Linked DNA regions of Homo sapiens. The protein of the gene in region 2 purifies or fractionates together with the protein of the main gene of each other region. This does not show direct contact. Each region holds a gene or a part of one and is shown on either strand. Other genes may lie near its edges. The genes, in order: ZMYM1, TMEM74, SPECC1, YEATS2, RRP12, MIS18BP1 and CHST7.

The links.
Region 1: the proteins of TMEM74 (region 2) and ZMYM1 purify together in Homo sapiens (affinity purification with mass spectrometry; one large-scale study listed by BioGRID and IntAct). This does not show direct contact.
Region 3: the proteins of TMEM74 (region 2) and SPECC1 purify together in Homo sapiens (co-immunoprecipitation; 2 studies listed by BioGRID and IntAct, with this or other methods). This does not show direct contact.
Region 4: the proteins of TMEM74 (region 2) and YEATS2 purify together in Homo sapiens (co-immunoprecipitation; one large-scale study listed by IntAct). This does not show direct contact.
Region 5: the proteins of TMEM74 (region 2) and RRP12 purify together in Homo sapiens (affinity purification with mass spectrometry; one large-scale study listed by BioGRID and IntAct). This does not show direct contact.
Region 6: the proteins of TMEM74 (region 2) and MIS18BP1 purify together in Homo sapiens (co-immunoprecipitation; 2 studies listed by BioGRID and IntAct, with this or other methods). This does not show direct contact.
Region 7: the proteins of TMEM74 (region 2) and CHST7 purify together in Homo sapiens (affinity purification with mass spectrometry; one large-scale study listed by BioGRID and IntAct). This does not show direct contact.

What each region holds. Positions count from the first base shown.
Region 1 is NC_000001.11:35,103,220-35,107,502, reverse strand, and holds part of ZMYM1 (zinc finger MYM-type protein 1), read right to left. Parts: intron 3,209-4,283; coding exon 3,034-3,208; intron 2,947-3,033; coding exon 2,734-2,946; intron 1-2,733.
Region 2 is NC_000008.11:108,781,219-108,785,061, forward strand, and holds part of TMEM74 (transmembrane protein 74), read right to left. Parts: coding exon 2,963-3,843; 3' UTR 1-2,962. UniProt on the Homo sapiens protein: Plays an essential role in autophagy. TMEM74-induced autophagy may involve PI3K signal transduction.
Region 3 is NC_000017.11:20,204,523-20,208,805, reverse strand, and holds part of SPECC1 (cytospin-B), read right to left. Parts: coding exon 2,894-4,283; coding exon of another isoform or gene 2,870-2,893; intron 1-2,869.
Region 4 is NC_000003.12:183,704,034-183,708,316, reverse strand, and holds part of YEATS2 (YEATS domain-containing protein 2), read right to left. Parts: intron 1-4,283. UniProt on the Homo sapiens protein: Chromatin reader component of the ATAC complex, a complex with histone acetyltransferase activity on histones H3 and H4. YEATS2 specifically recognizes and binds histone H3 crotonylated at 'Lys-27' (H3K27cr).
Region 5 is NC_000010.11:97,394,274-97,398,556, forward strand, and holds part of RRP12 (RRP12-like protein), read right to left. Parts: intron 2,029-4,283; coding exon 1,945-2,028; intron 1-1,944.
Region 6 is NC_000014.9:45,242,947-45,247,229, reverse strand, and holds part of MIS18BP1 (mis18-binding protein 1), read left to right. Parts: coding exon 1-487; intron 488-4,283. UniProt on the Homo sapiens protein: Required for recruitment of CENPA to centromeres and normal chromosome segregation during mitosis.
Region 7 is NC_000023.11:46,577,163-46,581,445, reverse strand, and holds part of CHST7 (carbohydrate sulfotransferase 7), read right to left. Parts: intron 1-4,283.

The DNA.
Region 1 (4,283 bases), on a different chromosome or scaffold from region 2:
TGGGTACTCAATACAGGTTTTTTTTTTTTTTTCTGAGACAGAGTCTCGCTCTGTCGCCCAGGCTGGAGTGCAGTGGCACGATCTCGGCTCACTGCAAGCTCCGCCTCCCGGGTTCATGCCATTCTCCTGCCTCAGCCTCCAGAGTAGCTGGGACTACAGGCGCCCGCCACCACACCCCGCTAATTTTTTTTTTTTTTTGTATTTTTAGTAACGATGGGGTTTCACCATGTTAGCCAGGATGGTCTCGATCTCCTGACCTCGTGATCCACCCGCCTCAGCCTCCCAAAGTGCTGGGATTACAGGCGTGACCCACCGTGCCCGGCATATAGGCTTTTAAAAACAGAACAAGGCCGGCCAGGCGCGGTGGCTCACACCTGTAATCCCAGCACTTTGGGAGGCCGAGGCGGGCGGATCACGAGGTCAGGAGATTGAGACCATCCTGGCTAACACGGTGAAACCCTGTCTCTACTAAAAATACAAAAAATTAGCCAGACGTGGTGGTGGGCACCTGTAGTCCCAGCTGCTCGCGAGGCTGAGATACGAGAATGGCGTGAACCCGCGAGGCGGAGCTTGCAGTGAGCTGAGATTGCGCCACTGCACTCCAGCCTGGGCGACAGAGCGAGACTCCGTCTCAAAAAACAAACAACAACAACAACAACAACAAAAAACAACCCAGAACAAGGCCTATTGAGTGTCAAAAAGAAAGAAAGAAAAAAAAAGGAATATTATTTCCTGCCTTTGGGAGAAGTCTTCTGTGCTTTCCGTTCTGGTCCCAAGGCAGGATACTCTCAAGATGGGGGCCATAGAAAAGATGTGAGTCACAAATGATCTATTTGAATTATGGCTTGTTTTGACTCCCATCTTCAACTGCTTTTTTTTTTTTTTTTTTTTTTTGAGACGGAGTCTCACTCTGTCGCCTAGGCTGGAGTGCAATGGTGCCATCTCGGCTCACTGCAACCTCCACCTCCCGGGTTCAAGAGATTTTCCTGCCTCAGCCTCCCAAGTAGTTGGGATTATAGGCGCCTGCCACCATGCCCAGCTAATTTTGGTATTCTTAGTAGAGGCGGGTTTTCGCCATGTTGGCCAGGCTGGTCTCCAACTCCTGACCTCAGGTGATCGGCCAGCCTCGGCCTCCCAAAGTGCTGGGATTATAGGCATCAGCCACTGCACCCGGCCAACTGCTTGTTTTTAAGGAAGTCTGTATAGGGATAGAGTTGGGTCTCAAAATATGATATGAACAAGCAACATATCTAAGAAGTCCCACCTCATCTCATTTGCTCTTTCTCTGCTCTCAGAAGCACCCACCCAGAGCTTGTCTATCAGAAATAGGGACAAATAATACTAATCTCACTGGATTATTTCCTCCTATGACTGACTCAGAGAAAGCATGTGATATTTTTTGTTTGTTTTTTTAAAGACAGGTTCTTGCTATGTTGCTCAGGCTGGTTCTGAACTCCTGGCTCAACTGAACCTCCCGCCTTGGTCTCCCAAAGTGCTGAGATAACAGGTGTAAGCCACCATGACTGTCCACATGTGACATTCTTGATTCATCTTTGCATTGTTTGGTGTAAGAGTTAAACACGTGGAATTAAAAACAAAAACATGGCTAGGCTCACATCTGTAATCCCAGCACCTTAGGAGACCAAGGCAGGAGGATCAGCTGAGTTCAGGAGTTGTAAGACAAGCTTGGGCAACATAGTAAGAGCTTGTCTCTACAAAAAAATTAAAAATTAGCCAGGTGTGGTGGTGTGTGCCTGTAGTTCCAGCTACTCGGGACGCTGAGGTGGGAGGATCACTTGAGCTAAGGAGGTCAAGGCTACAGTGAGCCATGATTGCCACTGCACTCCAAGCTGGCTGACAAAGACCTCGTCTCAAAAAAATCAAAATAAATAAAAAAAATAAATAGCTGGGCACAGTGGCTTACGCCTGTAATCCCAGTTCCTTGGGAGGCTGAGGCAGGAGAATTGCTTGAACCTGGGAGGCGGAGGTTGCAGTGAGCCAAGATTGTGCCACTGCACTCCAGCCTGGGCAAGACAGCGAGACTCCGTCTCAAAAAAAATAAATAAGGTCAGGTGTGGTGGTTCATGCCTGTAATCCCAGCACTTTGGGAGGCCAAGGCAGGTGGATCACGAGGTCAGGAGATTGAGACCATCCTGGCTAACACAGTGAAACCCCATCTCTACTTAAAATACAAAAAATTAGCCAGGCGTGGTGGTGGCGGGTGCTTGTAGTCCCAGCTACTTGGGAGGCCGAGGCAGGAGAATGGCATGAACCCGCGAGGCAGAACTTGCAGTGAGCCGAGATCGCGCCACCGCACTCCAGCCTGGGTGACAGAGGAAGACTCCATCTCACCAAAAAAAAAAAAAAAAAAAAAAAGAAAGAAATAAAATAAATACATAAAAATAAAAACAAAAATACTTTTGTGTTTGGGTTTTATTGACCAGCAGACTATTGTTATTTTTGCTATACTTATTTCTAGTTTATAAACCGGCTCCAGCCTGCCTGCCTTTTCTTTAAGGTGAGATAATCGATCTGAGATTATTTAGGAAAATCTCCATATAGCATTTATCATGAATTCTTATGCAAGAAGAAACCGTTAAAAGCCTTCTATTTCATCTTCATCAACTTATCGACATTATTCCAAAGGGTACCAAAAACTACTTCCCACATTTTCCTAGAGTGAAACCATTCATAGGCCAGTTAATAGAAGAAACAATAGGTCTTTATTCATACCTGCTTATATGCTGTAATACTCTTTGAACTATTAAAGTAATGAGACTGTCCTTCCATCTGAAGTATGTGGGACAGACTAGAGCTGGTGTAACAGTAAGTGCCACAGTTCTCACAGCAGTTCATGATGAAGTTGTTAGCAGAGTGAAACTTTGAAAGGCAGGCATTACTGCAAAGATTATGTTTCACATTTTGGTATTTTACTTCATACTGAATCTAGGATTTAATAAAAAGATTCAGTAAAAACTCTGATATTTAAGCAGAATCATCAGAATCCCTGTAAAGGTTATAATTGGAACTTACAATAGCAGTCTTCTGGCACATGCTGCACTTGGTCAAAATGCTATTAGTACATATGGTAACAAATGGTTTTCTTTTTTCTTCATATGATGAAAGACAAGATAGGCTGCAAAAAGTTTTGCAAGAGGTAGTGTCTTCCAGCTGGACACTAATCACATCCTTTGGATTTAAAATGTCTCTAAGAATAAATAACAAGGACATCATTAAACAGTTTAAACACAATTATAACTTCTCTTTATAAATGAAATGACCTCTCAAATTAGAGTAAGAACATTAGCCTTGAAATAAGAAAACCTGAATTTGGTACCCAGTTCTGTCACATTTATACTCCCTAAATTTTAATTTTCTCATCTATACATTACAGATTATAAAGCACATCTAATAGTGCAGTTTTGTTTTTTAAGAGATAGGGTCTTGCTGTGTTGCCCAAGCTGGCCTCAAATTCCTGGGCTCAAGAGATTCTCCCACCTCAATCTCCCACATAGCTAGGATTACAGGCACATAATCCCACCATGCCTGACTTTGAAGATGTAGTTTTGGAGACTAGCCAGCCTGTATTATTAGGTGGTGCTAGTGAAAACCGAGGGATGATGAGAGATCACATATTCACATGAGCAACTCTAGAATCTATAGGACAGAGAATCTTAAAATATGGTCTTCAAATCCCTGGGGGAGTCCCCAAGATCAAAACTATTTTCATAGTAAGATGTTATTTGCTTTTTCACCGTGTTGATGTTTGCAACATCACTTTGCAACTGATGTTGCAAAGCTAATGGTAGGACCCTGCAATCCCACTCCTTGGTAAACACCCAAAAAAACTGAAAACAGGTACTCAAACAAGCACATGTACGTGCATATTCATAACAGCACTATTCACAATGGTCAAAAGATGAAAACAGCCCAAATGTTCATCAGTAAGTGAATGAATGAATAAGCACATTGTGTTACATACATACAGTGGAATATTATTCGCCTATTAACAAAAAGAATAAAGTACTGATACATGTTACAACATGGACAAACCTTGAAAATATTATGCTAAGGGAAAGAACCAGACACAAAAAGTCACTGCACTCTAGCCTGAGCAACAGAGTAATAATACCCTGTCACAAAAAGGTCATATATGATTCCATTTACATGAGATATTCAGGATAGATAAAATCTATAGATATAATGCATACTGGTGGTTGACAGGCACTGGGGGGAGAGGGAAATTAGGAGAAACTGCTTAGTGTTTAAGGTGTTTTACTTTG
Region 2 (3,843 bases):
CACAGGTAACAACCAGCACCATATTGAAGAGACAGACGGAAGGTCACAAATCTCCATGAAGGATGCAAGACCAAAACTATAGGTATTGTATGCCCAATGTCTATAGAATGCATCACCTGGTCTTGCCAAAGTACCTCTAGAGCCAAAAACACTCTTTGTCAGATTGGGAAAAACAGGAAATAAAGCACATGGCTTTTCTTTGCCTGTGTTACCATCATTTTAAATTCAAGTAATCTTCATATTGAATTCAGGCAGGATGGATAAGGGCTACATAAACCAAATACCCAGGGAAAAGTCGATTAAGGCAAGTATCTGAATAATGTCACCACAGCCCAAAAGAAGTCATTCAGATGATTTTCAAAATCATGTAATGTGTAATGGTTTGCCCTCAGATAAGTAGAACCTTAAAAGAGAGGTGCTCTATATGTTAGCAGATTTAAATAATGTTGAAGTGTGCATTTACTTACCACATTTCGATTTTAAATTTTAAAGGAAATTATAGCATTCTAGGGAAAAGAAAGGAAATGTATTTTGATGTGTTAGGTCTTTTTCTCCCCCGTTGAATATTTTTTTTCCAAAATGGCATTTTTCAAAATGTTACCTCTAGATCAAATCTATATTATTTGGTAGCCCTGCAAGATTCATTAAATGCTTCCACATGAAAAGCTTTATTATCAAGTGAAAAGACCTCCTAACACTTGATTCCCAAACTCCTCTTCCTTCATAAACTGAAAATTGATTCCACATTAATTCAGTTTAGTCTGCCATTTGGCTAATTAATCCTGTTTCACCAATAAATAAAAACTCAGTTGATCTCATTTAGCTTCTATGAATAAACATTAGTTTTTTCTTTAATGCCTTCTTTTTTTTAATGCCTTCTTTTTTTAACACACAGCTCAGACCTACTCACTCAGCAGATCGTTTCCTTCTTGTTTCAACATCATCCAAAGTGGATCCTTAAGCAGGCTAGAGCTGGACTTAGAAACCTTCAGAATATAAAACTTATACCACTGGTAAGGCAGCCTCAACAAAAATCATGAAATGAGAGTCACAGTAAAACAAAGTTTGTTCAAAAAGCACAAAAATACAGCAACAGAAAGCAAAAATCATGTTTATGTCATCTCAATTCTTTCTTTTCAGTAATCAGTATTGCTCTATAACATAAGGCAATTAACTACATCTAGCTTCCTCTGATGGCCATATAATTTCTCATTTTTACTTAATAATTCTTTCATATGCCCATCCTCTCTTTTTACTATCTTCTGAGCCTCCCTTTTTGTATTTCAGTTCAACCCTTAAGTCATATGCAGCATACCTCACTCATCAAATCAATCTGACACCCATGAGAGCTCATCCACATAAATATCCTGATTCACACATTTTGCCAAAGTCACCCATGTATTCCACAGTTGTCCACAACACCACAAACTTCAGACATTTGAAATAGCCTTTAAAAATCTGCAAAGAAATCACTTTCTTACTTCCTCATTCCTGCTGTCTCATACCAATTCCCAGCTCCTGTCCTCTTTTTAAGAATGACCCCCTGATCCTGGTAACACAATCATGGAAGTTACAACAACTCTTAGAGCACAGGTTGGAAAAACCTCCAGGCAGAGTTGCAAAATGTAAGGTATTTCTGAGGCTGCATTTCCCATCCCTTTTCTGAACCGTCACCATAATGAGGCGGTCTGTCACTGTGAACACCCAGTGTGTGTCTTGCAAAGTGAGCACCTTGCTCATCATGCTGCTCTTAGAGAAGAGTTTGTGCTGCATGAGGCAAGAGTTCACAGTTGCTGAATGACATCTAGACCACTGTGAGTGGGAGGTGAGTTCTGACGATGACTACAGTCCCCATTAAATCAGTGTATTGAATCTCTCTTTCCATTTTATTTTTTTTTGGCTTTGGGCTTAAGGACTGTTGCTACCATGAGGGAAGTGCTCGTTGCTTGGCCTACAGCAAGTGATACAGCCTGCGAGGCACAGTCCCCAAAAGTCTAGCTGCAATTCTATTGGTGGTTTTCCCCAAACAGCAATAACAAGATGTTACCTGGAAGCACACCAGAGCCAATCATGACTCAGGCCTGTCTAGATGTTTAGATGTCTGGAAATATATTTAAAATGTCTCATGCCTTGCCTCTTGCTGCTGGTGTGAGAACCAGCAGACTTCAAGAGCACAGATAACCAGTATGATGGCAAAATCACAAAATATAAAACTTATATCAGTAACTAATTTGACTTCATTTTAAAAAAGAGCCTGTGACCCTGGCTAATATCTGGCACCAACACTGTGGTTTAAATTCACATTGGTCTTACAATGATTTACATAATTTTTTTTTATTAGAAAGTTTATCCTAATGACTTAATTACCATTTTTGAAAACAGGAATAATTTCAAACATAACATTTTTTACAATAAGGAAAGCCCAACATCCTCAAACTTCAAAATATTCAAACTAAAAATTCCATGTTTTAGTGTTTAGCCAAATTACAAGAAGGATAATTTAGCAAGAAAATGGATAAGCACCTTTGAGAATTAGATGTAAGCCTTATTATTGATTAGTGCTTAGTTCTTTTTCACAAAGTAGATTAGCAATTGATCCTACTGTGTGTAGGACCACCTAGTGTCCAAAGAATAACATCATATATTTGTGTAAAAGAAATAATTTGTAGACTGGGTCATTAGAAATATTTTTCTATCGAAGTAGAAGTTCTTGGCCATTACAGATTAATTAGCCTTCAGCTCTTCAGAAGGATAGGTGTGGCTGGTTGTGGTTTCTTATACATCTTACATGGCTTTTCTTCTAAATAGAAGACACATAGAGAACAAAAACACTTACTGGCTGTTGGTTTGTGAAATAAACTTTTCTTGCCAGGCAAATAAATTGCACTGTGAATTTTTATAAATTAACTTTTTTCATATTATAAAATGCCAAGGCAGACTCTCAAGATATTCACAACCAGAATTAACTCTGTACAGCAAGCGCATCTTCCTCTACCAAGGACAGTTCCAGAGTGTTTTCATTCGTGCTGGTTTTCATCCTGAAGTTGAAAGAACCATAGAGTTTTGCAGACTCTTTGGAAGAGGCAAATCTGTTTCGACGATAGAGCTCCCCCTTCCACATGGACATCATTAACAAGCAGGACAGGATGACGCCCCCCAGCGTGAGGAGGCAGAGCCCCGCAATCACACAGCGGTCCAGGTGAGCCCCCAGCCTCGCACTCTCCTTCTCCAGGCGCTCCATCTCCCGGGCTGCCACAGTGTTGGGGTCCACAGTCACTTCCCGTGGGACGATGTAAGAGATGATCACGAGCAGGATCCCAGTGACCAAGAACAAGATGGCGCTGATGAAACCATAGTCTATAGACTTCCCTGAAGACGTGGCTTCTGAACTTGTATCATCCTCCTCTTCAGATATCAAAGATATGGCAGCCTCTTGGGACCACTCATTTGGATTTTCCCAGCCAAGCTCCCCAGGGTGATTATGCCCTTTTGCTGATGGCGAGCTCCGGTTCCGCTGCTCCAAGTTGATGTTTTTGTCCACATAGGTAAAAGAAGTTTCTAATTCCTGGCTGCAGCAGTTACAGACTTTCCGTTCCGCTGTTATTTGGTTGTTCCCTGAGTGGAGAAGTCCTGGTGGAAAGGCATCTGGCTGAAGAGTACTGTTTTGCAGAGAGGAGGAGGGGGATGCTGGAGAAGAACTAAGTTTAGACCCTTCCATCTCGGTTGCTCTTGGGGTGGATGCACACTGTTTCTGACAGCAGAGAGCAGCTCTTGTGGCTGCTGTATCTGCCTGGTCACCAGGCAGCCCTCTTGAACTCCAGTCCCTGGCATCACAGAGGTCTG
Region 3 (4,283 bases), on a different chromosome or scaffold from region 2:
CAAACAAAACACCTCTTAGCAAATACTTGCATAACATAATAAAAGGTATGTACCAAATGCCTACAAAAAACATACATCATAATTAAATGTTAAATGCTTCCCTTGGAATTAGATACGAGACCAGGATCCATCCACCGTCACGCTTCTATTCGACATTGCACAATGTAAAGGGGCCTGCCCAAGGTCACATCATTGCTCACTGGGTAAGTCAAGAGGACCCAGTCCAGCATGTTAGACCCTTCATCATAGTTTTGTGCTAAAACTTCTCCTGTTATCCTTTGGACATGAGTCTCTTAAGTATTATCATTTAAATTCATGGTTGTTGGCAGATTACTTGATAGTCTGTGGTAGAGATACAATCAGTATTAGTCCATTTAGGAGGTCTATGTTTTGCTTTTTCTACAGTAATGTAAAAGGGTAGGAAGATTAGTATGTTACAAGTCCACTGCAATTACAAATCAGTCTCTGTGCACATAAGACAGCACAAAATCACAAACCTAGGGTCTTGATAGATATACAAGAAACCCTATGTGATAGCATGCCCCCATCTTTACCTCAAACTCTCACCTAAAAATACTAGCTAGGACCTTTCCCTTCTTACTATCAGTATTTGATACTTCTAGTTAGCATGCAGTAAGATGTAGGATACATGAATAATAACAGTTTGATTTTAAACATATATGTTGTGCCTTGCACTCTACAGAAAATGCACACTTTCCTTTAAATTACATTTAGTTTATTCCAGAAGATTCCAGATTTTATTGCCTCTATTTACCAAAGCTATAACTTTAAATGCTTTCATTATCAACCAAGGATAAAAAAAAGTTAAATGAACAAAGAATTTTAGTCAAGAAACCAAAATGTACAAAAAATAAGACAAAAAAATTAATAAAGATAAAAGTAGAAACAAGTTAATCAGAAACAGATTAATAGTGGAATAGATAAACTAATCCAACTGATTCTTTGTAATGGAATGTGGACAGACATACTCTACTCTTCTGGATAGGAAGACAAAATATCATAATCATATCAATGCAAGTTTTTATGCATGCTCAAACATGTATAAACTGAGAAAAGGCCTGAAAGGACATACAGCAAAAGGTTAGCAGTTTTTCTCCAAGTGGTGAAATTAAAGGTAATACTTTTCTTTTTTATACTTTTCTGTACTTTTTAAATCGTCTGTAATAAAAATATTTTATGATCAGAAAAAAATAAGCTATTTTTAAGATGTCAAATTATTTCTCACTGATATGCACATTTAATGTAATGCCAAACTACCAAAAACACAGAGGGACTGATAAAGAACTTCAAGAAGGTGCACATGGGAGATAAAACATTTTGCCAGAGAGTAGTGAGTAATCTTAAAGTAAAAAAAGAATAATCTTACTCCACAAGATATTAAAACCCAATGCCAAGCCTGACTAGTAACCTCTAATGGAATTACTTCCGTACTTTCAATAAAATACCTACAAATTTAGAATACAGACAAAGAGAGAAACTCCTTAACATGACCCACCACTAAGCTCATCAGATGGCCAAATTGCAGAATCAGGCTGCAACAGACTCATCTTAAGACAGACGAAGCAGTGGAGAAAAATCTCCCTGAGAGCTCATGGCATAATTTGCTCCTTGAAACAATGACAACCCCTAAACTAAGGTAGGAAGATGTTTTGAATCTCTCTTGCCAGTAGATCCCTAAATCAGACCCAGAACTTGGAGGGAACAAGAAATAGGAGGCCATCTCTCTGCACCTCTCCAGCACTGCTCTGGGAGGTGGGCAGAATATCATAAAATCACCACAATTCTTGCATCAAAAACAAAATTACAGGCTGATTAAAGTGTTGAGAAAAGTTATTTGCTCTTGGGCTATGGAAGATCTTCCCAAGCAAAAAAGGTTAAAAAAATGAAATGATTAACAGATTTAAATGATATAACAATGTAATACCAAGTGCTGGCAAAGGCTCAGGAAAGCTCATGATCTCATGACCGCTAGGATGAATAAACTGGCATAATATTTCTGAAGGGCAATCTGGCTGAATGTGTTGAAAGTCTTTAAAATGTTTATACTCTTTGACTCGGTAAGTCATCGTCTAGGAATTTTTCCTAAATAAACAGTAAGATAGATATAAAAAAGTATTTATAATATTGAAAGACTGGAAAGACCACAAATGTTTGACAATACATGTATGTTCAACAACAGGGTAAATATGAAATATTTATATTAAAATAGTATCTGGCCTTTAAAATAATGTTTAAATGAATATTTAATGATAGGAATATGCTGAGAAAAGTTTTAATATTTCTAAAATGTCAAATGCAAAAAAAGTTAATAACATGTACAGGATGATTATAAATTTGTGTAACTTGTATGATACACATACACACACATATATCTGGAAGAAAACACCAAAATAGTGGTAATATTTTAGTTGAAAATTGGGAGTGATTTCATTTTCTGTTACTGGCAGCTAAAAGCATGCTGACAGACTGGCAAACTCCCACTCAATCTTCAGAACTCAGCTCAGTTGCTATTTCTTCCAGGAAGTCCTTCTGTGCTACGCCCAACCCCCACGTTACACCAGATGCCCCTCCTTTGCACTAGACTAGAGCCTGGGCATAGGCTGTATGATATTCTTTTATCACTGCATCATACTCTGATTTGACTCTACATCCCCACATTTTGAACCGCCCATAATCAGAAATTTGGGTGTTTCCTTTTTGTATCCCCCAATCCCAACCTGTGTGCAATCTAACAGGCCTTCAAGCTGGAATGCTGGCTTCGTGAATGAAACAGACTAAGCAAATGCTTCTCTGTGCTCTGTGAATTTAGAGGTTAAGGGCAGAAATGTGAACAAGGATGAGCAAATACCAGTAAAGAGCTGTCTCTTCTCACCTTGGCCAGCAGACTGGAAACATGTTTAATTTCACCGTTTGCCTTTAGTAATTCTTGTCTGAGCTCATTGCAAGACAGTTCCAGTAGATCTTTCTCTGCTCGGGCTACTTTCAACATTTCTTGAACTTCGCAGCTCTCTGCCGTCTGCTCCACAGCACTGGCCTCTGTGGCTTTCTGCTTCTCACCCTGCAAATGAGACTTCAAAGATCCATTCTCCATTTTTAGCCCTTCCAAGGTAACTCTACACTCTTCCAAAGTTTTGGCCATCATGTTATTATTATGCCGTTCCAGTTCTAGAAACTCATTCAGTTTTTCATTTTCTTCCTTCAGACGTTTAATCATTTCTAAAGCTCCTTGGTTTTCTTCCTCAACCTTCCGCAAGCTACAGGTCAACTGCTGCTGAATGTTGAGTAGCTTCTCTCTTTCAAAGCGGCCCTGTTCAAGAATACCTGTGCACTTCTGCTCCAGTTCAATAATTTTTCCTTCCTGAGTGGTGGGCTCTTCATTCTTTACTCGCTCTTGTAAAAGATTCATCAGCTTCTCATTTTCTTGACTTAGCTGCTCTGCCCTCTCTCGATGCTGATGAAAGGATGTCTCTAAAATCGTCTTTTCATCCACCAGCTTCTCATTTTCAGCTGTCAATTCCTGTACCATTTGTTGCTGGTCTGATAATTCTTGTAGAGTAGCCTGTAGTTCTTCTGCAGTGCTATGGTGGTTTTCTTCCATCTTTTGTATCTTCTCTGTGAGGGAAGCCAGGGACAATTCACTTACGCTGTTTGGGGAACTCCCAGCAGTAGAACACTTTGAACTCTTAAAGGGGTTACTGGTGGAGGACAGGGGCCTTGAGGGTGTCTCTGCTGTAATGTGCTCAAAGTCGGAAGCATCTGGCGACAAAGAAGCTTTGGTAACATCGCTACTTGAGGAGCCTGATGTCCGTAATGCATTTCCATGTATGTTTTTTTTATACTCATCAATGTCACTGGACATCTGATTTCCAGTTGGGCTTCCGAAGCTTGACTCTTGAGTTATGGATGTTGGGCAGCTGCTGTCGCCAGTGTGACTTGCTGCCCCTTCTGAATTTGGGGAGTGCTCAAGATAGATCAGTTTCTCCTTCAGGACCCGGTTTTCTTCCTCTAGATCGGAAAGCTCTTTCTGAAAGTTCTTGTTCTTCTCCTCAAGAGCTCTTATCATAGGTTCCGTGTCACCTGGGGAGACTGATGTTCCATCGACATTTGGGCCCAAAGCATCAGTCCCCTCAGCGTTCAGAGTCCTTTTCTCTTTGTATTTCTTTAGTTCACTTCGAAGCCTGTTAATTTCACTATCTTTTGCTTTGGCTTCTGCCAAAAGTTCCCGAACTTGGGACTCAAGCGCAGCCTTTTCTCCACCTTCA
Region 4 (4,283 bases), on a different chromosome or scaffold from region 2:
GGTGGCGAGTGCCTGTAGTCCCAGCTACTCGGGAGGCTGAGTCAGGAGAACTGCTTGAACCCAGGAGGCAGAGGTTGCAGTGAGCCGAGATCGTGCCACTGCACTCCAGCCTGGTGACAGAGCAAGACTCCGTATCAAAAAAAAAAAAAAAAAAAAGTGGCCAATTCTTGAGGAGAAAGGAGTAAAATCTGATAAATTAGACACTTGAAAGATTTGCCATATATCATATGAGGTATCATCTCAATAATTCTATGTGCCTCACATCATTTGAATATCAGAACCACTGAACTTGGGGCTCTCACTCAAGACTTCCCATCTGGTTTAAAGTTGGGGAGGGGGACGCCGGGCATGCTGGCTGCTCACGCCTATAATCTCAGCACTTTGGGAGGCCAAGGCGGGTGGATCACGAGGTCAGGAGTTCGAGACCGGCCTCATCAACACGGTGAAACCCCGTCTCTACCAAAAATACAAAAAATTAGCTGGGCATGGTGGCATGCACTGTTATCCCAGCTACTCAGGGCAGGAGAATTGCTTGAACCCGGGAGGCAGAGGTTGCAGTGATCCGAGATTGCGCCACTGCACTCCAGCCTGGGTGACAGAGTGAGACTTCGTCTCAAAAAAAAAAAAAAAAAAAAAAATAGGTGGGGAAGGGGAGTAGTACAATCATTTTCTATCTGCTTCCATACAGACAGGCATTCCTAAGATGCTGATAATGATTTCATAGTTCCTGGCCCTGTCCTTTCTACAGTCTTAAAAGAAAATACATTCTCTTTTGTAAACAAGACAACCAGTGTTCCTTTATTAAATATCTGAATAAGACTCTACAATCCATTTTCCATTAGCCAATGACATTTCAAAAATGTCTCAAAAGTCCAAACCAGAGGAATGGACGAACAAATCGTGGTATACTCAATGAACTCTTGATGCAGGCAACAACAGAAATGAACCTCAAAATCATTATGGCAAGCCAAAGAAGGCAAACACAAGAGTACAAGCTAAATTATCCCACTTAAGTTCTAGAAGAGACAAATTAATCTATAGTGAAAGAAATGAGAATCATAGTTGGAGGTGCTGGTGTTAGGGACTGACTGGGAAGAGGAATGAAGACTTTTTTCTTAGAAATATTTTATTCAGGTTGAGTATTCCTTACCCAAGATGCCTGGGACCAGAACTGTTTCAGATTTCATACTGTTTTGGATTTTGGAATATTTGCATATACATAGTAAGATATCTTTGGGAAGGAACCCAAATCTAAACATGAAATTCATTTACGCTTCATAAATATCTTACACACAGAGCCTGAAGGTAATTTTATACAACATTTTAAATAATTCAAAACATAACACAAAGTTTTGACTATGTTTTAACTGACCAGTCACAAGGTCAGGTGTGAAATTTTCCACTGTGGCATCATGTTGGTGCTTAAGAAGTTTCAGATTTTGGAGCATTTAAGATTCAGATTTTTGGATTACCAATGCTCCACCTAACTTTTTTTTTTTTGAGACAGAGTTTCGCTCTTGTTGTCCAGGCTGGAGTGCAATGGCACAATCTCAGCTCGCGGCAACCTCCGCCTCCCGGGTTCAAGCGATTCTCCTGCCTCAGCCTCCTGGGTAGCTGGGATTACAAGTATGCGCCACCGCGCCGGGCTAATTTTGTATTTTTAGTAGAGACGGGGTTTCTCCATGTTGGTCATGCTGGTCTCGAACTCCCGATCTCAGGTGATCTGCCCGTCTTGGCCTCCCACAGTGCTCCACTAATCTTAATAAGAGTGTAGGTTAGATGGGTATGTATATCCAATTGCAAAAACACCCAACTGTACACGCAAAATCTGTATTTCACTGTCTGTAAACTATACCTCACTTTAGAAAAGGACAATAAGAATATTTTTCTGATCATGTCATCCCCTGCTTGAATCCTTCAAATAGCTTTTCATAACATTTAGAACAAATTTCCATTCCTTAACATGACCTAAGAGATGTGAACTGCGCCCTGTCTCCCTCTCCATCCTTAATCTTTAAGATCCAGACAGGTTGGTTTTCTATCCCTCAAATATACTCCCAATTTTCCTTTGAGCTTTTGGAATCATGGCTCCTTCTATCTGGAATGCTCTTTTCTTAGGTTAGCTTAATCAGATTCCAGCTGAAATCTCCCCCTTATCAGGGGCCTTCCTTGACCGTGCCCCATCCAACACAGCTCTCCCTACCTTCTCCCTCCAAAGTTCCTGGAAGTGCTCAATATTACTATCTGGAAAAATAAATGAAGGATTTTTTTTTTTTTTTTGAAACAGTCTTGCTCTGTCACCCAGGATGGAGTGCAGTGGTGCGATCTTGGCTCACTACAAGCTCCGCCTCCCGGGTCAGGCCATTCTCCTGCCTCAGCCTCCCGAGTAGCTGGGACTACAGGCGCCCGCCACCATGCCTGGCTAATTTTTTTGCATTTTTACTAAAGATGGAGTTCCACCATGTTAGCCAGGATGGTCTCGATCTCCTCAACTCGTGATCTGCCTGCCCCGGCCTCCCAAAGTGCTGGGATTAGAGGCGTGAGCCACTGCGCCCAGCCATAAATGAAGGATTAACTAAAATATCTGCCAAAATATAAATGACCACAGGGAACATAACTACTACCTTACATTAGTTTTCATCATTAATCTATTTGTTGATATTGCTACATCTTTAAAGGCTCTTTAGCTAAATGTTTAAAAGAATGTACAAAGTTATTATACACAGACACATGCAAACAAAAAGACAGTAAGCAAGGCAATATTAATAATAGAATTCAAGGCAAAAAAAATAACATGATAAAGATGATGTTATTAAAGGCACAATCACAAAAATACATCTTAAACTATACATCCAACAATATAGTATCAAAATACATACAACAAACAGAAAAAGGAAAGTTTAAGAAATCACACATCTCTATATAAAATTTAAAAGATTAAGACAATTTATAAAAATACAGATGATAGGCCGGGCGTGGTGGCTCACGCTTGTAATCCCAGCAGTTTGGGAAGTTGAGGCAGGTGACTCGCTTGAGCTCAGGAGTTCAAGACCACCCTGGGCAACACAGTGAAACCCTGTCTCTACAAACAATACAAAAATTAGTTAGGAGTAGTGGCAAGCACCTGTACTCCCAGCTACTTGGGCAGCTGAGGTAGGAGGATTGCTTGAGCCCAGGAGATGGAGCCTGCAGTTAAGCTGAGATCGCGCCGTTGCACCTCCAGCCTGGGTGACAGAGCCAGACCCCGTCTCAAACAAAACAAACACAACAAACAAAAAAGATGATATAGATATATATCTGGTAATTAACAAGCCAGAATTAACAAATACACACAACTCTGAACCCAACAGAAAAAAATCTTTTAAAAATATCTATAAAAGTTCATTAAGGTCGGATGCAGTGGCTCATGCCTGTAATCCCAGCATTTTGGGAGTCCAAGGTGGGTGGATCACTTGAGGACAGGAGTTTGAAACTAGCCTGGCCAATGTGGTAAAACCCCGTCTCTACTAAAAATACAAAAATTAGCTGGGCATAGTTGTGGATACCTGTAATCCCAGCTACTTGGGAGGCTGAGGCAGGAGAACTGCTGAACCCAGGAAGTGGAGGTTGCAGTGAGCCGAAATCACGCCACTGCACTCCAGCCTGGGCAACAGAGTGAGACTCTGTCTCAAAAAAAAAAAAGTTCATAAAATGTAAATCATACAGTAAGATATGAAGAAAGTCTCAAATTACTGCAAAATGTAGAAATATTACAGCCACATTCTGATCTTAATAAAAATTAATATTAGCTCACCATGATATGGAAAATAAGACACTCTTCTAATAACTCATGACTCAAAGAAGAAATTAAAACTAAAGTAACAGACTATTTAAAAACTAACGAGAACACAGTATCTCCAAACCTATGGAAATGTGGTCAAAAGTCACCATCAGAGGAAAATGGCAAACAAGCTTTCACTGCAAATACACATACAAATCCAATCCAGCAGGGTATTAAAAGCATAATGCATCATAACTGGAAAGTTTTATTGCCAGCAACAGAAAAAGAAACAAGCAGAACGAACAAAGGCTAAATCCTAAAACCAAAGTGGGGAGATCTAGAACGAAGGGGATTTGTACTACACAAGTCTACTGTTGAAGCTTTAGGAAGCTTTTTTTTTTTTTTTGAGATGGAGTCTCACTCTGTTGCCCAAGCTGGATTGCAGTGGCGCAATATCGGCTCACTGCAACCTCTGCCTCCCAGGTTGGAGTGATTCTCCTGCCTCAGCCTCCTAAGTAGCTGG
Region 5 (4,283 bases), on a different chromosome or scaffold from region 2:
CAGAGCTTGCAATGAGCTGAGATCGTGCCACTGCACTCCAGTCTGGGTGACAGAGTGAGACTCCGTCTCAAAAAAAATAAATAAATAAACTATATATATGTTTATGTGCATATATATACAGAGATAGATAGATAGTTTTTTTGAGAGACAGGGTCTCCCAGGTTGGAGTGCAGTGGTATAATCATAGCTCACTGTAACCTTGAACTTCAAAGCTCAAGAGATCCTCCCACATCAACTTCCCAAGCAGCTAGAACTACAGGCATGCGCCACAAAGCTTGGCTAATTATTTTATTTTTTGTAGAGACAGGGTCCCACTATATTGCACAGGCTGGTGTCGAACTCCTAGCCTCAAGCACTCCTCCGATCTTGGCCTCCCAAAGTCCTAGGATTAAAGGCGTGAGCCACCACACCCAGCCAAACACCATATACTGCCATCTAATTTATTTCATTATTCTAGAGCAGAGGTTGGCAAACTTTTTCTACGAAGGACCAGATAGTAAATATTTTCGGCTTTGCATGCACACTTGGTCTCTGTTGTATGTTCTTTTTGTGTGTGTTTTAACAATTCTTTAAAAATGTAATAACCAGGCTGGGCATGGTGGCTCATGCCTGTAATCCCAGCACTTTGGGAGGCCAAAGTGGGAGAACTGATTCAGCTCAGGAGCTCAAGACAAGCTTGGGCGACATGACGAAACTCTGTCTCTACTAAAAATACAAAAATTAGCTGGGCATGGTGGCAGGCGCCTGTAATTCCAACTACTCAGGAGGCTAAGGCACGATCATCACTTGAACACAGGAGGTGGAGGTTGCAGTGAGCCATGATCACACCACTGCACTCCAGCCTGGGCAACAAAGTGAGACCCTGTCTCCAAAACAAAACAAACAACAACAAAAAAACCCAAAAACAAAATAAAAAGTATATATATACACATATACACACACACACACACATACATACATACACAAATATATTTATTTATTTAATGTAATAAGTAGGCCAGCCATGGTGGCTCACACCTGTAATTCCAGCACTTTGGGAGGCTGAGGTAGGGGGGATCACCTGAGGTTGCGAGTTCGAGACCAGCCGGGCCAACATGGTGAAACCCTGTCTCTACTAAAAATACAAAAATCAGCCAGGTGTGGTGGCGCACGCCTGTAATCCCAGGTACTCAGGAGGCTGAGGCATGAGAATTGCTTGATACCATGAGACAGAGGTTGCAGTGAACTGGGATCGTGCCACTGCAGTCCAACTTGGGCAACGGAGTGAGACTCTGTTTCAAAAAAAAAAAAAAGTAGACCAGGCCTGGTGGCTCAGGCCTATAATCCCAGCACTTTGGGAGGCTGAGGCAGGCAGATCACGAGGTCAGGAGTTCGAGACAAGTCTGGCCAACATAGTAAAACCTCTTCTCTACTAAAAAATACAAAAAATAAGCCGGGTATGGTGGTGTGCACCTGTAATCCCAGCTACTCGGGAGGCTGAGGCAGGAGAATCACATGAACCCAGGAGGCAGAGGTTGCAATAAGTTGAGAACATGCCATTGCACTCCAGCCTGGGCGACAGTGTGAGACTCCGCCTCAAAAAAAAAAAAAAAAAAAGTAATAAGTAGCCAGTTGCAGTGGCTCATGCCTGTAATCCCAACAATTTGGGAGGCCACCGCAAGATGACAAGACGGTTTGAGCCCAGGAATTTGAAACCAGCCTGGACAACATAGTGAGACCCTGTCTCTTTAAAAAAAAGAAACAAAGAAAGAAAGAAAAGAAAAGAGAAAATTAAAAGGTAGCAAATACCACCAGCCTTCCTAAGCCACCTGAGAATAACTGAAGCACTTTCACCTGGTCAAGGTTGTCCTTCTCTACCCCCACATGCCAGGGGCACTCATCTTCTCGCTAAATCTTGCATAACCTGCTGCTCTGAACACCCACCCTCCAGTGGCACCCACTCACCAGAGCAGCGAAGTACTCAGTCTCCGTCTCCTTCCCTCCCTGGGAGCGAATCACCTCAGTGACAGCAGCCAGAACAGCACAGATCTGCACAGGAGGGAGAAAGCACTGTGACTATTTTAGACCTAACCCCACCCCAGGGGAACCTCCTTTCCTTGCTCCTTCACAGATTAATCTCTGGTTAAAGCCCAGAGACAGACAAGACAGGCAACATTCAGGGCCTAGGTCCATACCAGGGGGCCCAGCAAATAACAAGACTCAGAAAATGCTTGCTAAAATTCCACCATGAGGTACTAACCTTCTAGAAATACCTGCATGAGATGAGTGTGCAAATATTTATGTACAAGGATGTTCATGGCAGCAACAAATTGGAATGGTCAAGAAGCCATCAACAGGAGATTAATAATGTACTGTAGTTGTCTCTAATGTACTGCAGTTATCGAGGGGGGGATTGGTTCCAGGACCCCTAAAGATACCAAAATCCGAGGATGCTCAGGTCCCTTATAAAAAATGGTGTAGTATTTGTGTATAACCTATATACATCTTCCCATATACTTTATTTATTTTTTTTGAGATAGAGTCTCACTGTTAGCTAGGCAAGAGTGCAGTGGCATGATCTCAGCTCACTGCAACCTCTGCCTCTGGGTTCAAGCAATTCTCCTGCCTCAGCCTCCCAAGTAGCTGGGATTACAGGTGTGCACCACCATGCCCAGCTAATTTCTGTATTTTTAGTAGAGATGGGGTTTTACCATGTTGACCAAGCTGGTTTTGAACTCCTGGCCTCAAGTGATCTGCCCTCCTTAGCCTCCCAAAGTGCTGAGATTACAGGCATAAGCCACCATGCCTGGCCTCCCATATACTTTAAATCATCTCTAGATTACTGGTAACACCTAACACAATGTAAATGCTATATAAATAGTTGTTATACTGTATTTTTGTTGTTGTTGTTGTTGTTGTTGTTTTTGAGACAGAGTCTCACTCTGTCACCCAGGGTGGAATGCAGTGGCGCACTCTCTGCTAACCGCAGCTTCCACCTCCCGGGTTCAAGCGATTCTCCTGCCTCAGCCTCCTGAGTAGCTGGGATTACAGGCATGTGCCACTACGCTAGGCTAATTTTTTGTACTTTTAGTAGGGATGGAGTTTCACCATGCTGGCCAGGTTGGTTTTGAACTTCTGACCTCAAGTGATCTGCCCGCCTCGGCCTCCCAAAGTGCTAGGATTACAGGCGTGAGCCACCTCGCCTGGTATATTATTATTATTTTAAAAAGATTTTTCAATCCATGCTTGGTTGAATCTGCAGGTGCAGAACCCGCAAATATAGAGACCTGACTGTATCATTATATAATAATGAAAAATTTAAATAGTGCATTATTCAAAAGAATGAGAACAACTATATATTAACTTATAAATATCGTTCAGTAGGGAAAAAGTTGCAGAACAGTGGATAAAAAATAAACTAATCAAGCAGGGCACAATGGCTCACACCAGTAATCCCAACACTTTGGGAGGCTCAGGTGGGCAGATCCCTTGAGCCCAGGAGTTCAAGACCAATCTGGGCAATATGGCAAACCCCATCTCTACAAAAAATACAAAAATTAGCTTGGTATGGTAGCACTCCCCTGTAGTCCCAGCTACTTGGGAATTGGAAGGCTGATCAGCCACTGCACTCTAACCTGGGTGACAAAGTGAGACTCTGTCTGAAAAAAAAGAAAAGAAAAGAAAAGAAACTAATCACATTTTGGTAAACCTAAATAACAAAATTGGGTAAAAAAAAATACGTATATATATATACATATATATATATATATGTATATATATATACGTATTTTTTTTTTTTTTTTTTTTTTTTTTGAGATGGAGTCTCGCTCTGTTGCCCAGGCCGGACTGCGGACTGCAGTGGCGCAATCTCGGCTCACTGCAAGCTCCGCTTCCCGGGTTCACGCCATTCTCCTGCCTCAGCCTCCCGAGTAGCTGGGACTACAGGCGCCCGCCACCGCGCCCGGCTAATTTTTTGTATTTTTAGTAGAGACGGGGTTTCACCTTGTTAGCCAGGATGGTCTCGATCTCCTGACCTCATGATCCACCCGCCTCGGCCTCCCAAAGTGCTGGGATTACAGGCGTGAGCCACCGCGCCCGGCCTTTTTTTTTTTTTTTTTTGAGACAGAGTCTCGTTCTGTCACCCAGGCTGAAGCGCAGTGGTGCGATCTTGGGTCGCTGCAACCTCTGCCTCCAGGGTTCAAGTGATTCTCGTGCCTCAGCTTCCCAAGTAGCTGGGATTACAGGCGCATGCCACCATGCCAGGCTAATTTTTTAGTAGAGATGGGTTTTCACCATGTTGGCCA
Region 6 (4,283 bases), on a different chromosome or scaffold from region 2:
CAAAGGAGAAATCTACCCATGGATGCAATCTTTTTTGACAGCATTCCTTCAGGCACACTTACTCCTGTAAAAGATTTGGTGAAATATCAGAACTCCTCCTTAAAATTGAATGACCATAAAAAGAATCAGTTCCTAAAAATGACAACTTTTAACAATAAAAATATATTTCAATCAACTATGCTAACAGAGGCTACTACCTCTAACAGTTCTCTTGATATCAGTGCTATAAAGCCCAACAAGGATGGATTAAAAAATAAAGCAAACTATGAATCACCAGGAAAAATATTTCTAAGAATGAAAGAAAAAGTACTGCGTGACAAGCAAGAACAGCCATCAAGAAACAGTAGTTTGTTGGAACCACAGAAAAGTGGAAATAATGAAACCTTCACTCCTAACAGAGTTGAAAAAAAAAAATTGCAGCATACCTACCTATGTGAAGAAAAGGAAAACAACAAATCATTCCAGTCAGATGACAGTTCACTAAGAGGTTAGTTTTATGTGTTAGCTAAAAAGCTGTAATGTCTTAAGTGTTTAATGTTTCAGACACTGTTTTAGGTGCTCAGAATATAGCAGTGAACAAAATGGACAAAAATCCTTGCCCTTGTGTAGCTCATATTCACATGGTGGGAAGACATAATTAACATATTAAATAAGTAATTTTTATGGCTTAGTAGAAGAGGAAAAGTGGAAAGAGGAAAAAGCAGAATTAGGATGATGGGAAGAGTTGGAGGGGGATGTAATTTTCAGTGCGATGGTCAGAGTAATCTTCAGTAATTTGAATTTGGGAATTTGAGCCCACAAAATTGAATGAGATGACAGATACATGTATCTTGAGGAATGGGGAAGGATGATCTAGGCAGCTGTTATAAACGCCTTGAAATAGCATGCCTGACATGTTGAAGGACTAGCTATGAAGTTAGTGTGTCATGGAGTGAGTAGATAGAGCTCAGAAGGAAGGGATAAATAAGAGTGGGTCAGATAATATAAGGGCCTTGTAGGTAAATGTAAGAGTTTTGGCCTTTACTGTGAGCAGAATAAGCCATCGGAGGGTTTTGAGCATGTGAATGACAAGATCTGACTTATGAGGGTTTTTTTGTTGTTTTTTAGTTAACCACTGTGTACAATGACAATGTTTTTAAAATGTCACTCTGGCTGTTCTGAAATAGAGTTACTGCAGTAAGCCAGATGACAGCCGGTGTTGGCTTGGTTCAGGTGTTAGTAGTGCAGATAGTAAATGTGCAGATGGTAAATGGCTGGACTCTAGGACAGACGGAAGGAGGAATGGAGTGCGGGCTCATTAACTAAGATTTTGTTATGTTAATTTTGATAACCTCTATTAAAAATCTAAGTTTAGGTATTAGGGTGTTGGAAAAAACTAGTTGGAATTTAGAGAAGTGATCAAGGTGAGAAAAGTACATTGGGGAATCATTAGCACCTAAATGGTATTTTAAAAGCAATGAGATTAGATGAGGTCATCAAGGAGTAAGTGTAGAAAGAGAAAACATTCAAGAGCTGGGTCCTGGGGTACTCCAGCATTTGGAAGGTAGAATAAAGAGTAGAAAGGCCGGCCGGGCACGGTGGCTCATGCCCATAATCCCGTCACTTTGAGAGGCCGAGGCAAGTGGATCACCTGAGGTCGGGGGTTCAAGACCAGCCTGACCAATGTGGAGAAACCCCATCTGTACTAAAAATACAAAATTAGCTGGGCTTGATGGCGCATGCTTGTAATCCCAGCTACTCGGGAGGCTAAGGCAGGAGAATTGCTTGAACCCGGGAGGCAGAGGTTGTGGTGAGCTGAGATCACGCCATTGCACTCCAGCCTGGGCAACAAGAGCAAAACTCCATCTCAAAAAAAAAAGAAATAAAAAAGAAAAGAGTAGAAAGGCCACTGAGAAGATTGTGAGGAAGAAGAAAAACCAGGAGAGTGATACTGTGAAAGCCAAGAGAATGAAGTACTTTAAGGTGGGAGTTGACAGCTGTCTAATGCTCCTAATTGGTCAAGTAGGCTGAGATTCTACTGCTCGTTTTAGCAATGTGAAGGTCATTGGTGACTTTGATGGAGGGCAGCTTTGGTGGAATGGTAGCAACGAAAACATTGCGTGAAAGGGTTCAAGAGATAATGTGACAAGAGGAATTGGCAATAGTGAACATAGACAGCTCTTTTTGAGGCTGGCAAAGAAATAATGGCAATTGTAGTTTAAAGTTTTATCATTTTTAATACTTGGTGAAATACAGCATTTTTATATGCTGTTGGGAATAATGGAGTAGGAAGAAAAAAAATTGAAGTTGCTAGTATGATGCCCTTCAGTAGTTGAGAGGAAATATAATCTAATGCATCATTAGCGGTTTGACCAGAACACAGACAGACCAATTGTTAACTGAAAAGAAAGCCGTTTACACAGATGTTGGTGGATTATTATTTTATGACTTCACAAATAATTTGAAATAAGTAAAGTCATCAGCTGAGCAATATGGAAAACAGGTATTGAAGTTTGAGGAGGTAGAGATTTGAATAGTTTGGGAGAGGCCTAAATTTGATTTCCTGGGTAACACAGAAGAGCTGTTTAAGATTTGTGAACATGAATTTAAAATGGAACCAGTAAATATGGCTGTGAGTTTTCCTTTAGCCCTGTTTTGCTGCTAAGATGCTGGTGTAGAATTGGGGGGAGTTGGATTTAACTGGGTTGTAATTTTGCCAAATAGAATGAAGTGACAGAAGGACAAAGGAGGGTGTGTGTGAAGGAGTCATAATGAAATTTAAGCTGATTAATGAGGGCAAAGGATCTGAAGGAGATGAGGGATTGTGAAGTGTATATTTTATTTGGATAGTCACTGGATTTGAGAGAATGATCTGGAAAGATGACACTACAACAATTAAAATTGAGATTTTAATGAGTTTCAGTCACTGATAATGAAAGATATTTTACATGTATTATCTCTTTTAATCCTTTCAACGAACACATGGGTAGATGCCCATTAGTGGTCTATAAATGGGGATTGTAAAGAGTGTAAGTCCGCTTGCTCTATGTCTCATAGGTAGCAAGTAATAAGCTGATAACTGAATATAGGTATCTGTTAGAAAGCCCATGTTCTTAACCACTACACAGTAGGTTGTGGGTATATTGTTGCATTTCCAAGACAGTGACATATTCTAACACAGAGTTTTCTAAGGGAGTTTGGGGGTAGAAGTGGGGAGACTCACAAAGTCATCTATTTCTCATATAGCCTGGGAGAAAAGGAAGAAGCAAATGAAATAATACATATTAAAGTTTTTAAATATAATAAGGTAGCATTTGAGAGTAAGAAATACCTGACCATTTTGAGAATCTGGTGACCCTTTCCCCCAGAAAATATAAACACAAATAGAAACACAAATTTTGTATATACTTTTAGAAACCTTTTAGAGAGTCTACATGAACCTGGGACTCCCACATAAGTGAATAAATATAACTTATTGCATTTGATTGAATTACTACTGAATTGCCTTGCCATTTCTTGTAGAATGAGTTAAAGATATAGAAACTTATTGTTTCTTTTTGTGACACGTTGTTATAATGAAATCTTTATCTTAAGATTTCTGAGACCAAAGTGGCATACTTATTAAAGCATAGTCACTACCAGTTTTTTCAAGTATAAAATTTAAAATTAAACATATAAGATAATTCTTCTCAGGCTCAAATTTTAAGTCTATTATCATCCCCTTTTTGTGTGAAAGAAACTACATTCGAGAAACATTAAACTTTAAAAATCTAGGAGGTAAAGCAGAATAAGATGCAAGCAGTGCTATTAGTCCTTATTTATCTAGTTGAGAAACCTACAACTTCTGAGCATTTGAAGGCCTACTAAAAATTGTCTAAAGGATATAAATTATGGCTGAGTCTGCTGTTGCATCTCAACATTTTAATTTTTAAAGAATAAGTTACAATTCTTCGACTATCTTTCATGCTTTAGAAATTCACAGCAACCAGAAACAGAATCGGAATTTTCAAGACTGGGTGAAACTTTATATTGTAATCTTAACATATACATATCCAATTTGTGGCAGCACCAGAATTTCAGATCTCTAGGTTTCTAAGTCCAATACTTTTGTCTAGAGCTGGCGGGTTGTGTTCAGAGAAGGTTTTAAAAAATTCTTCCTCACCGTAATGTTGGTATAGAGAATGGGGTAAAGGTATGAGAAGATAATACAGCCAAAAATATAAAAATATATGTAACTGTCATATATTGCAAAAGTACTATACTGGTCTGATCATTACTAAATCTAAGTGTCTTTATTTCAAGAA
Region 7 (4,283 bases), on a different chromosome or scaffold from region 2:
TAGCTGAGATTACAGGCACGCGCCACCATGCCCGGCTAATTTTTGTATTTTTAGTAGAGACAGGGTTTCACCATGTTGGTCAGGCTGGTCTCGAACTCCTGACCTTGTGGTCCACCTGCCTCGGCCTACCAAAGTGCTGGGATTACAGGCATGAGCCACTGCACCTGGCCCTTATTTAATTATTATTATTATTATTTTTTTTTTTTTTTTGGAGACAGAGTCTGGCTCTATCACCCAGGCTGGAGTGCAATGGTGCAATCTCAGCTCACTTCAACCTTTGCCTCCAGGGTTCAAGTGATTCTTCTGCCTCAGCCTCCCGCGTAGCTGGGACTACAGGTGCCCGCCACCATGCCCAGCTAATTTTTGTATTTTTAGTAGAGATGGGGTTTCACTATGTTGGTCAGGCTGATCTCGAACTCCTGACCTCAAGTGATCCGCCCGCCTCAGCTTCCCAAAGTGCTGAGATTACAGGCATGGGCCACTACGCCTGGCCCAGAAATCCTTTTAATTTGACTTCCTCTTCTTATTGGTAAGAACACTAAAGCTGAAAAGGTTTAGGGACTTGCCAAAGGTCAATTAAGTAGTAACCAGGAGAGGCAGGCCCTGATGCCTGGGTTCCCATGCCGTAATTCAAAAACTGACTTCATATAGAAAGCAAGGAATGACTGTTACTACTTTATGTCCACCCCTTGCTTTGTAGGACCAGCCTCCTTCCCTGTTCACTCATCAGACTTGACAAGTCTTGACTTTTCCTTAACACCGTATCCATCAGCTGAGGGGTCCTGCCAGGGAAGGCAGGCCCAAATGGGAGCTCCGAGTGCCTTGATCAAAGGTAGCATTAACCTCACAAGGAGCAATAATGATTTGGACATGGATGTATTTTTAAAAATTGTTCACACCTCATTGCAGCCCTGCTACTCAGGTACCTATCCATGTGCACACACACATGCGCACACACACACCATCCTAACTTCCAGCTCTCTGGCTCAAACCTAGCACCCAGGTTGATATGCTATTAGGAGTCTGAAGATAATTTTGTTGAATGAGAAATTCTATATAGGAGCAATGTTTCAAAAATGTCCATTCTGGGCTGGGCACGGTAGCTCACGCCTGTAATCCCAGCGCTTTGGGAGGCCGAGGCGGGTGGATCACGAGGTCAAGAGATCAAGACCATCCTGGCCAACATGGTGAAACCCCGTCTTTACTAAAAATACAAAAAAATTAGCTGGGCATGGTGGCACACACCTGTAGTCCCAGCTACTGGGGAGGCTGAGGCAGGAGAATTGCTTGAACCTGGGAGGCAGAGGTTGCAGTGAGCCGAGATCGCACCACTGCACTCCAGCTTGGCAACAGAGCAAGACTCCATCTCAAAAAAAAAAAAAAAAAATGCCCATTCTTTAGCAGTCTGTGTGTAAGCAACAGCTTCACTTTTCAGTGATATTTATTTATCTTTTGAGACAGGGTCTCTCTCTATCATCCAGACTAGAGCGCAGTGGCGTGATCACAGCTCATTGCAGCCTCGACTTCTTGGGCTCAAGCGATCCTCCTACCTCACCCTCTCAAGTAGCTGGGACTACAGATGCGCGCCACTACCCTCAGCTAGTTTAAAAAAAAATTGTAAAGATGGTGGGGGTTGTCTCACTATGTTGCCTAAGCTGGTCTTGAACTCCTGACCTCAAGCGATCTTCCTGCCTCAGCCTCCCAAAGTGCTGGGATTATAGGTGTGAGCTACTGCACCCGGCCTCAGTGATATTTATACATAAGCCTATATAAAATGTTTGTGGCCCAGTTTCCTGATTAAAATAGATTTTCAAAATGATTTGGTGGTGGTTGATCATTTCTTTTCCTGTTTACATGATTTCTTTAGAAAGAAAGCTTCCTGATTGTTAGGGTTCAAATTACAGGGTGTTTGCCTTCTTTCCTAATTTCTTTCAAAGGATGCATATGTCATGTCAAGAGCAAAGATCAAGGTGCCTTAAATGCCTAGCGGGATGAAACTTTGGGACCTACCAAGGGCAGACATTAAAGGGAGACATGCTGAAAAGGACAGGATAGCACATCAGTCTGTCCAGAACAGTGGTGGATAGTGTACAATGATGGATTATTAGATAATTAGATAATGAGCTACAGACAACAAAGCATGTGAAGGCATGTGAGAGGGTGATAAATGGACCCATGTATAATTGAGGACATTTTCCCCTTTCCATAATAACACTCTACATCTGCTTGGCACTTCATAGCTCCAAGTTCTTTCACATAAATTACTGTGGCAAGCAGTTCAGTGCTCATCAACAGCCCTTTATTCCCCATCCTGATCTTGTTCCGGTGGCAGCCTTCTGGTCCCATCTGGCCCAGGGGATGAACCATGACTGGTCTGAGCCAGAGGTTCTCAGCTTTGGCTATACAGTAGGATCATCTGGGGAGCTTTTCAAACATCCCAGTGCCTGAGTCTGGGGACTCCACTCCAGACTACTTAAATCAGAATCTCTGGGGGTGGAGCTCAGGCATTGGCATTAAAAAAATAAATAAAAAAGCTCCTCATGTAAATGTAATGTTCAGCCAGGGCTGAGAACCGCTGGTCTAAGCCAATCACAATGCTCCCATTCCCTTTCACCAATGATTGGGCTAGGGCAGGCTGTATAACCCAGTTTTAGCTAATGAGACATAAAGGGACGTCGGCTGGTAAAGGGGGTTCTGGGAAAGGTGTTATAATTTATTAAGGCTGGGTGCAGTGATTCACATCCATAATCCCAGCACTTTGAGAGGCCGAGGCAGGCAGATAGCTTGAGCTCAGGAGTACGAGACTAACCTGGGCAACACAGTGAGAGCCCCCACTCCCCGCCCATCCCCAATCTTTGCAAAAAAAAAATTTCTTTTAATGAGATTGAGTGGTGGTGTGCACCTGTAGTCCCAGCTACTTGGGAGGCTGAGGTGGGAGGATTGCTTAACCCTGGGAAGTTGAGGCTGCAGTGAGCCATGACATTGCACTCCAGCCTGGGTGAAAGATTGGATGTGGTGGTACGCACCTGTGGGCCCAGATGCTTGGGAGGCTGAGGTGGGAGGATCACTTGAGCCTGGGAGGAGGAAATTGCAGTGAGCCAAGATTACACCACTGTACTCCAGCCTGGGTGACAGAGTAAGAGCTGCCACTCAAAAAAAAAAAAAAAAAAAAAAAAGAGCATGGCAGGAGGAAAAACCCCTCCACCCCTTACTGGCTAGATAGCTTCCTTCCTTTCTGTATTTTAATAACCCTGTGTCGTTGTGTGAAGATGTTTTGCTTGGAGCTGTGGCTACCATCTTGTTACAGTGGGAAGATAAGCCAGTGAATGAAAGCCAAGATGTAAAAGATAGAAAGGGCCTAGGTCCTTGGTGACTTGGTTCAGGGTGCTACGGCCCCTACCCAGACCAGAAAAAACTTCACTGACTCCCTCACTGCCAAATCCTGGCCATTGGGTATGGACCATCCAGAAGTTACTCAGGTTAATTCACATGTGGCCTCTCTCCTCAGTTGAGCTGAGGGCACCCTGAGATGCCCTGTGGGGAGGATGGCTGTAAAGTTGTCGGCTTTCCTGTGTAGGCACTGTCGGCAGCTCAGGGATATTTTATTTGTTCAGTGGTTGGGACATATTAGTAATAAAGCTGAGTGTGTTTTCCACCTCATACTAGCCTAGCTGGAGTATCAGGGTGCTGCCAGGGAATGCCAAGGCAGGGGCCAGGTGAGGTATAAAAGAGAGGATTATGAGCTCTGGAGTCTAACACCAAACACTGTTCCACCCTCACCAGCCCAGGTATGACTTTGGGCAAATTACTTCTCTGAGTCTCGGATTCCTCATCTGGAAAACTGGTATAAATAATGATATATGTACAATGCCTAACTCAGTGCATGACACATAGCCCTTCAGTAAGGATCCCTCCCCCTCTCTTCTCCTCCCTTCTCTAGAATAGAGTGTGACAAACTTTTGGAAAACCCATCAGTGAGTCGGCAGTAACGTTATCTTCCTAGGAACCAAGAATACAAGCACTGTAATCAACCCACTGATTGGTGGTAAGTGCCCAATGCGGGAGGAAGGACTCAGTCACTAAAGTCTGGAAGAGCCTAAAGCTTGCTCCCAGATGTCCCTGCAGCCCTGCAAAGGAAGCCCCATCGGCCTTCCAAACAGCAACACCAGTGTCTTCCCTCACAGTCACTGTCACCCACACAGACTCTAACCTCCTAGAGGGCAAAGACTGTCCTCTACCCTCCTCTCTATTCTCTTTAATGCTTCACCCCAGCCAGTACTCAA